3 separate regions of the Homo sapiens genome follow, and all the other regions are linked to region 3. Evidence: fine-mapped expression QTL. A gene starts in region 3. Each other region holds a variant in brackets. All regions are shown on one strand. Distances are from middle to middle.

Region 1 (2,757 bases), 23 kb after region 3:
ACCTCAGTTCCCGCCTGCACCCCCAGGGATGGGTGGGAAGGGTCTAGAAGGTATGGACCTGGAGTGGGTCACTTCTGGGGCAGCATGGGGGCCTGCCAGTCCTCCCTTCCCATCTTCTCCCAGCTTACACCTTCTAGGCCTTTGGTACTACCACCATCACCAGACCCCTTGAATTCCCATCCTGCATCATTGTCTTTTCTCCTCTGTAGGGGATGCCCCATACTGTACTCCAGAGCAGTACAAGGAGTGTGCAGATCCTGCTCTGGGTGAGCGCCCCTGGCCTGGGGCAGTCTGGGGGAGGGAAAAGGTGCTGCCAGCCACGTGCGCAGGAGTTTCAGGTCACGCTCCCAGAAGCCTCACATAACTCCTGGACTGGGCTGCACCCTCTCTTGTGTCTGACATTAAAGCTGAGAATGGTCAGTCATGGTGGCTTACACCTGTAATCCCAGCACTTTGGGAGGCTGAGGTGGGCAAATTGCTTGAGCCCAGGAGTTCGAGACCAGCCTGGTTTCATGGTGAAACCCTGACTCTATGAAAAATTAAAAAAAAATTATGTGGGCATGGTGGCATGTGCCTCTAGTCCCAGCTACTCTGGAGGCTGAGGTGGGAGAATTCCTTGAACCGGGGAGGTGAGGTTGCAGTGAGCCGAGATTGCACCACTGCACTCCAGCCTGGGTGACAGAGCAAGACCCTGTCTGAGAATAATAATAATAATCAATAAAGTTGAGAATAGCATCTTCAGAGGCCCCTATGAAAAATGAACAGAGGTCACCTGGGAATGGCCTTCATCTTCTTTCATCAGCCCCTCAGCTGGTTGACCCTGGAGGGTCCTGAGGAAGTGAGATATAAGAGTAAGAAATATCCATGGGGAGGCTTGGTGAGAATTAGCACATGGTAGACACAGCTGTGAGGGGGCAGCTGGGGTTCTCCTCACTCTCCTAGTTCTCTCCATCTACATCGTTGGTTCAGTGGCCTGCAGGGTTCAGCAGGTAAAGTCCTCAAACATGCCTCAGGCTGGATGGTGAGGTAGGATGTTGGCAGAGTTTAGCATCCAGGCAGGGTGAAGGGCAGGTCACGGAAAGAGAAAGGGGCCCAGAGTTTCTCTGGGCAGAGCTAGGATGTGCATGTGGGAAGGTGCTGGCAGAAGGGCACCACTCAACTG[A/G]GACCTCTCACCTGGCTGAGTGCAGACTTCCTGGTGGAGAAGGACCAGGAGTACTGCGTGTGTGAAATGCCTTGCAACCTGACCCGCTATGGCAAAGAGCTGTCCATGGTCAAGATCCCCAGCAAAGCCTCAGCCAAGTACCTGGCCAAGAAGTTCAACAAATCTGAGCAATACATAGGGTAAGGGCTCTGGCTGGGTAGAGCAAGGCCCTTGGGTTGGGACTGTGGAATGGATGAGTGGGGTTTGATGGGGGCGGGGGCTGGCAGGCAGGGGGAACTTGAGATAACACGGGGAAGGTCCAAAAGGCAAGCAAAGAGTCTAGGGTGGGTATGCAGGGAAGATCAAGCCAGAATAAGCAGGGAAGCACCCCTTTCTCCTCCTTCTTCATCCTCATTGTTGTAACCGGAGTCACTTTATACTTGATGCATACTGCATATGGTACAGAACATTTTTTCATATATGCCATCTCATTTAATCCTAAAAGGCAGGTATCTCCATCAGCATCTCATTTTATGGATATGGAAACTGAGATTCAGAGAGGCTGCCTTGCCAAGGTCACCTGGTTAGTAAGAGATAGAGATATGACTTGAACCTAGGTCTCCTCCCCCAATCCCTGTGCAGGGAGAACATCCTGGTGCTGGACATTTTCTTTGAAGTCCTCAACTATGAGACCATTGAACAGAAGAAGGCCTATGAGATTGCAGGGCTCCTGGGTGAGCTGCTGATGACACCTGTCCCCTTCTCATGCCATGGGCATGGCGTGGCTCCCTATCATCCAAAAGCAGGGTGCTCACTTCTGTCCCATGAGGGTCCTCCACCCCAGAGGCCCTTCCCCAAACCCTGTTGTCTTGGTAAGTGGTGAGGGAAGGGAACTGAGCCTTCTCTTAGGGCAAAGTGGAAAAGAGAAAAGACAGGCCTGTGGGCATGAGGGAGGGGTAGGCATGGAAGTGGAGACTATTTCATATGCCCCTAAACTAAGAGGGTTGTGGTATTTTGTAAACGATTATTTTTCTTGAAAAACACCTGCTTGTTTTAGAAAGGTAGAAAAACGCAGAAAAGCATAGAGAAGAAAACAAAAATTCCACCTGAATCTGGCTTTGCGATCCTTCTGTGCGAAGGCTACCAATCCCTTTGAGAATACAACTTGCCTGCCCCAGTCCCAGTAAACCCTGCTGCCCCCACGATGTCCTGACCCCACTGACCCCCCTGGCGCCTGCCCCCGCAGGTGACATCGGGGGCCAGATGGGGCTGTTCATCGGGGCCAGCATCCTCACGGTGCTGGAGCTCTTTGACTACGCCTACGAGGTAAGCGGGGGCGAGGCCCGGCACGGGGCCACGTGGGGGCGGGGTCCAGCCCGCCCACCTGCCCCGTCCCCGTCCTAGGTCATTAAGCACAAGCTGTGCCGACGAGGAAAATGCCAGAAGGAGGCCAAAAGGAGCAGTGCGGACAAGGGCGTGGCCCTCAGCCTGGACGACGTCAAAAGACACGTGAGGGAGCGAGCGAGGGCGCCCTCCAGCCCGCCTGTGCCTCCACCGCCCCAGGAACCCCGTCCACCCCCGCCCACCCGCCTCTGCCACCACCTTCTCTCCTTTGC
Region 2 (2,757 bases), 470 kb after region 3:
CCAATTAGAACTCCAATGGAAGATTCTTTAGGGAATGGAGAATTAGATAAAATGATCTTAGTGTTCACATGGAAGAATAAATAGAATAGCCAAGAAAATTTAGAAACGGAATAGTGAGGTGATACTTGGCCTTACCACATATTAAAACAGATTCTAAAGTTACTGTATTCAAAGCAGTATGGTATTAGCTTTAAAACAGGATGAATGGACAGAATACTATGCCCAAATTCTTATATATATAGGAAAACAATTACGTGTGAAAACATACAAGTTGTATTAGCTTAGTTCAGTTGTCTTCCCAATTTCCTCAAATTATAAAATATTTTAAAATAAATTTACTAGGACTCCATAGGACATCAGAATAGAGAACTTGTTGATATTCTGTTTATCCTGTCAGGAGGAGTACACTGGAGCTAGAAAGAAAAGCCTCTTCCTGCAATGTCTTTCCAGTGCCCTCTATGGACAGGCAAAGTTTAACATCATGGCAGCTGTCAAAGGAAAAATATTTAAAGGGCCCATCTCAGTTTTCACAGAGCAGCGAGGGTATATTTGGAGCTGAAAGGCCATAAATTGATAACACATCCTTGATTCCTCTCCTTCAGGCCACCTCTCTGTATCAAGTCCATCAGTGAGCCTTTTTGGTACTACCTTGAGAATATATTCTAAATCTACTTCTTTCCATGCCGAGTCACTGTTAATCATGCCCATGTCATCACATCTCTTGCTTCTTTAGCTCCTTACCTGGTGGTGTCCCAGCTTTCTTCTCTCTAACCCATTTTCCACATAGCAGGTAGAGAGCTTTTTAAACTGCAAATTAGGTCATATTACTTCCCCGCTTTATAGCTCTTCCATGAATTCAGTTTGTCTTTAAAATATAATTCAGATACGTTTCCATGGCCTGCAAGACCTACACCGCCCTGACCCCTCATCTTTTCCCCTCACCCATTGTGCTTCAGCCACATTGGCTGACTCTTCTTTCTCTTTTCCTTCCTCCCTTCTCTCCTTCCCTATTCTTCCCTCTCCTCTCCACCTGTCTCCCTGCCTCCCTCCATCCTCCCGCTTCCCTCTTCCTTTTTTTAATTTATCTGGTGTTTATTGAGTGCCTACTATGTGCCACATAGGTGCAGGTGATACAGCAGTGATTAACATGACAAACACCCCTCCCCTTAGGGGGCTTACATCTGTAGCTGTAGACAGAGAATAACAAGTAATATGTATTGCTTGTTAGATGGTAAAAATTTATTGTTATTTTTTTTGAGACAGGTTGGAGTGTAGTGGTGTGATCATGGCTCAACTGCAGCTTCCTCTTCCTGGGCTCAAGAGATCCTCCCCCTCAGCCTGCTGAGTAGCTAGGACTCCAGGCCTGTGCCACCATGCCCGCCTAATTTTTATTTTTTGTAGATACAGGGTCTTGCCATGTTTCCCAGGCTAGTCTCAAATTC[T/A]TGGGCTCGAGCAATCCTCTTGCCTTGGTGCCCTGCAGAGTGTTGGGATTACAGGTGTGAGCCTCTGTGCCTGGCCATTTGGTAAAAATTTCAATGGAGAAAAAGCATCAAGAGGGACAGAGAAGGCTGGGCACGGTGGCTCACACCTGTAATCCCAGCACTTTGGGAGGCCGAGGCGGGCAGATCACGAGGTCAGGAGATTGAGACCATCCTGGCTAACATGGTGAAACCCCATCTCTACTAAAAATACAAAAAAATTAGCTGGGTGTGGTGTTGGGCGCCTGTAGTCCCAGCTACTTGGAAGGCTGAGGCAGGAGAATGGCGTGAACCCGGGAGGCGGAGCTTGCAGTGAGCCGAAAGCGGGCCACTGCACTCCAGCCTGGGCGACAGAGCGAGACTCCATCTCAAAAAAAAAAAAAAAAAATACAGAGAATACCGGTAGAGGGTTATTGGGCACAATTTAAAAGAGGGTGGTCATCATGAGATGATACTTTGAACAAAATAGGCATTTCTTTTCTTCCTTGAACTCAACCGTGATGCATGTTGCTGCCTCTAGGTCCCCTTTTTTTTTTTTTTTTTGAGACAGAGTCTCACTCTCTCATCCAGGCTGGAGTGCAGTGGTGTACATGGAGCTCACTGCAGCCTTGACCTCCCAGGCTCAAGAGATCCTCCCACCTCAGCCTCCCTAGTAGCTGAGACTATAGGTTTGCACTATCACACCTTGCTAATTTTTTTATATTTTGTAGCTACAGGATCTCACTCTGTTGCCCAGACTTGTCTTGAACTCCTGGGCTCAAGCCATCCTCCCACCTTGGCCTCCCAAAGTGCCGGGGTTGCAGGTGTGAACCACCATGCCTGGCCACCTCTATGTCTTGTTCCTTGCTTTTCTTCTTCCTAGAATGTTCTGCTCCAACTTAGTCTCAGTTCAAAGTTAACCTCCTTAGAGAACCTCCAAGGTTAAATTAGCAACCCCTCCCATCATTCTTCATCTCACCACTCTCTTTTACTTTCTTTTTTTCCTGTTTAAAATTTTCTAATTAATACCAACATTTGAAATGATCTTGTTCATATATTAATATGATTGGATTCTTCCTCAGTAAAATGTTTGTTTTTTGAGTGCAGAGATTTTACTGTCTTGTTCCCTGCTGTCTCTCTAGTGCCTAGAATAGAAGACTCAATAGACACTTGTTCAGTGAACAAATGGACTTTGCAGGGAGAAGATTCCAATGGAATTCTTTAGATGGTGGCAGCTTTAAAGAGTAAAGAAGTGTAGGCTCTGTCCCCAGGGTCTCTGCCAGGAAGGATGGGGACCCCT
Region 3 (2,757 bases):
TGGCTGCCCGGGGGCATAGCAACCCTCCAGCACTGCCTGGTACCGCTGAACAGCTCCCCAAGACCTGAATGGAAGATCCTCCCTTCCTTTTGGCAGCTCCGTGTCCAGTCCCCTAGTAAATGGATCTCGACCTCCCTCCTCCACAATCTTAAGTCCACTCTCCCACTAGGGACCTCCAGACCCCTTCTCTGGTTTCCTAGATGTCCACTACTCCCAACTTCTCATCCAACTTCTTTCCAATGTGCCATCCCCTTCTCGTTACAGGTTTTCTTCTAACTTAAAGCCCGGCACCATGTCCTAGGAATACACCTCTCACCATCCTTCTCCCCGAGCCGCACCAGCCTGCAAGTAGAGCGAAGGAGCCACTAGAGACAGAACTCTGGTCCCCCGCACCCTCCTCCTCATCATCTGACACCATCAGACCTCAACAGCCTCTGTGCTAAGAGCCCCTAATGAGCATCAGCAAATTAACAACTTCCCCTTGATTGCTCCTTCTCTGTTAATTGGATAGGGAGGGCCCCCCTCCCCAAGGCCTCTCAGAGAAGAGGAGGGAGGCAGGGAAGGAGAAAGGTGAGAGCCACAGGAGCAGCCCCCAGGCCTGCGTTCTGTGCTGAGACTTCTGCTCCATCCCTGAGCATAGCTCCCCGTTCCAACCCTTCCTCACCCTGTCCCCTTCACTCCCTTTGCCTCCTTCCTTCTGTCCAAATTCCCTTGACCTCTGGCTATTTTTCCTTCCTTTTCTCTGCTCCTTCTTTGGAGATTTGGCAGTAAGGGGTTGCGACCATGCCCCCCACAAGCCCAAAGCTACAAGGATGGGATCTGAGTGGTCAAGGCTGCGTGTTGGCTCACATATGTGCACGTGTATATGTGTCACATGCAGGTGGGAGCAGGGATAAGAGCAGGTGAGTGCTTGCCATGTGGGTCAGGCCCCCGGGATACGTGGACATCTGTTGCGGGGGGGTGTGGTTGTGAATGGTGTGGTGTGACTCTGGTCGGTATGTGTGTCTGTCTCCATATGGGCTAAGTGCTTGAATTAGTCAAGTGTGACTCGGAGCGTGTGTGTGTATGTGTGTGTGTACGCGCGTGTGTGCCACCAGAGGAAGCAGCAGCAAGAGGCAGGAGCATCGATCCGAAGGAGACAGCGCGGGGAGAGGGACGCTAGGGGCAGACACCCTCCCTCCTGCGCGCACACACGCGCGCGCGCACACACACCACACACAGAGTCATACACACAAGCCATAGGGCCTCGCAGGCAGGGAGACGGCTCCGGGACTGGAGAGAGGCAGCGCCGCCGAAAGCGGCCGCGAGGAGGGGCGAGGCGGCGCGGGGAGCCCTGGGTCCCGCTCCCGGATCCGGGGCCCCGCGCGCACACCAGCCCAGAGACAGCCTCGCAGACACTCGTAGGCGCGCACGCGCACCCTCTCCCCTCCCCCTCCCCTCCCGCCGCCTCCCGGCCGGACGATGGATCCCTGCAGATCCCAGGGCTGAGAGCACCGCGCACCGCGCCGAGCCCGGGCAGACCGAGCCGAGGCGAGCGAGCCAGCGAGCCAGCGCGCGCGGGCGGGCGGACAGATCGGAGCCGAGCGGGGCCGGGCGGGGCGCTCCCTGCAGGGCTCTGCGCGGCGTGCCGCGGCGGCCGCGGGCTCCGGCCCCGGGCCATGAGCCCCTCCGCGACTCGGCGCTGAGCCCGCCACCGGTCCAGCGCCCCAGGACCCGCCGCCGGCTGCCGGCTTGCCGAAGCCCCCTCAGGTGGGTTTCCGATACCCCTGCCTTTGGCCGCGAGGCTCCTCGGTACCCCGAAGCCGGGACTCTCCTCCCTCTGGATTTCCCTTGCTGCTGGGGCGGCTCGGTGGCTGGGGAGGGGGGCGGGGGCCGAGCTGGGGATCTGACTGCGACGAGAAGCTGGACTGGGGGGGGCTGCGTCCGGGGCGGGGACAGCTCGCTGTCATAGGGAACCGCGCCCCCCCTCCATACATCCACCTCGGGCAGCCCGCCACCCCCCACTCCCAACATACACACAGCCTGCGCTTATGTGAGAACTGGAGACACCCGCAGGTGAGGACTCAGGCTGGGCCCCTCCCTAGATGTAGCCACCTCCCTGGGGGTTTTCTGGCCCCAGTTTAGCCCTTAGGACCACAGCCCCGTCCAGGGAATACCCGTGACCAGGACAGGAGCTCCTTACCCCGGGGTCAGCCCATCTGGGTGAGTTTTCATCTCCAGGATGGGGTGGATATTCTTGTCCCAGAGTGACCCCACATCTGGAGGGAACTCCTGCGCCTGCCTATGGGTGCATCAGGACTTCCCCCTCAACCTCGGATGACTATATCTGGGGTCTCCCCGGGCCTGGGAAGCTTCTCTGGGGAGCATTCTCTTGGCCTGACCTGACCCCCTGTGCCTCTGTATTTGGAGGAACCCTGGATGTGTCCCTTGGTCAGCCACCTCTGGGCTTGCAAAGCAGGGAAGTCTTCTGCCCGAGGAGTGGTGACCTCTGGAGATGAGGATTCTGGATGGGCACATGTGGAGGGGCTCCATGTGTACTTTCATCCCAGGACAATGATAGACTGTCCCTCCCTCCTCCCCCAGGATCCCCTCAACAAGGATGGAACTGAAGGCCGAGGAGGAGGAGGTGGGTGGCGTCCAGCCGGTGAGCATCCAGGCCTTCGCCAGCAGCTCCACACTGCACGGCCTGGCCCACATCTTCTCCTACGAGCGGCTGTCTCTGAAGCGGGCACTGTGGGCCCTGTGCTTCCTGGGCTC

What was found. PIP is the estimated chance that this variant, and not a neighbour inherited with it, causes the effect.
Region 1: its variant is the best candidate, but not a certain one, in a credible set for the expression of ASIC1 in whole blood (TOPMed, PIP 0.68).
Region 2: its variant is the best candidate, but not a certain one, in a credible set for the expression of ASIC1 in whole blood (TOPMed, PIP 0.57).

Annotation. Positions count from the first base shown.
Region 1 is chr12:50,078,715-50,081,471 of GRCh38, forward strand. ASIC1 (acid sensing ion channel subunit 1) reads left to right here. Exons shown (of 12, transcript NM_001095.4): 7 at 210-266; 8 at 1,188-1,341; 9 at 1,784-1,875; 10 at 2,388-2,467; 11 at 2,546-2,650. Among named protein-coding and RNA genes, the nearest start is that of SMARCD1, 5.2 kb to the right of the region's middle. RefSeq lists a silencer at 2,374-2,543. The variant A/G (reference allele first, on the strand shown) is at 1,163.
Region 2 is chr12:50,523,510-50,526,266 of GRCh38, forward strand. All of the region lies in intron 1 of DIP2B (disco interacting protein 2 homolog B), which reads left to right. Among named protein-coding and RNA genes, the nearest start is that of DIP2B, 20 kb to the left of the region's middle. The variant T/A (reference allele first, on the strand shown) is at 1,443.
Region 3 is chr12:50,056,168-50,058,924 of GRCh38, forward strand. It overlaps ASIC1 (acid sensing ion channel subunit 1), which reads left to right and starts at 1,429. Exons shown (of 12, transcript NM_001095.4): 1 at 1,429-1,749; 2 at 2,584-2,757. The coding sequence starts at 2,600. RefSeq lists silencers at 1,232-1,391, 1,462-1,631.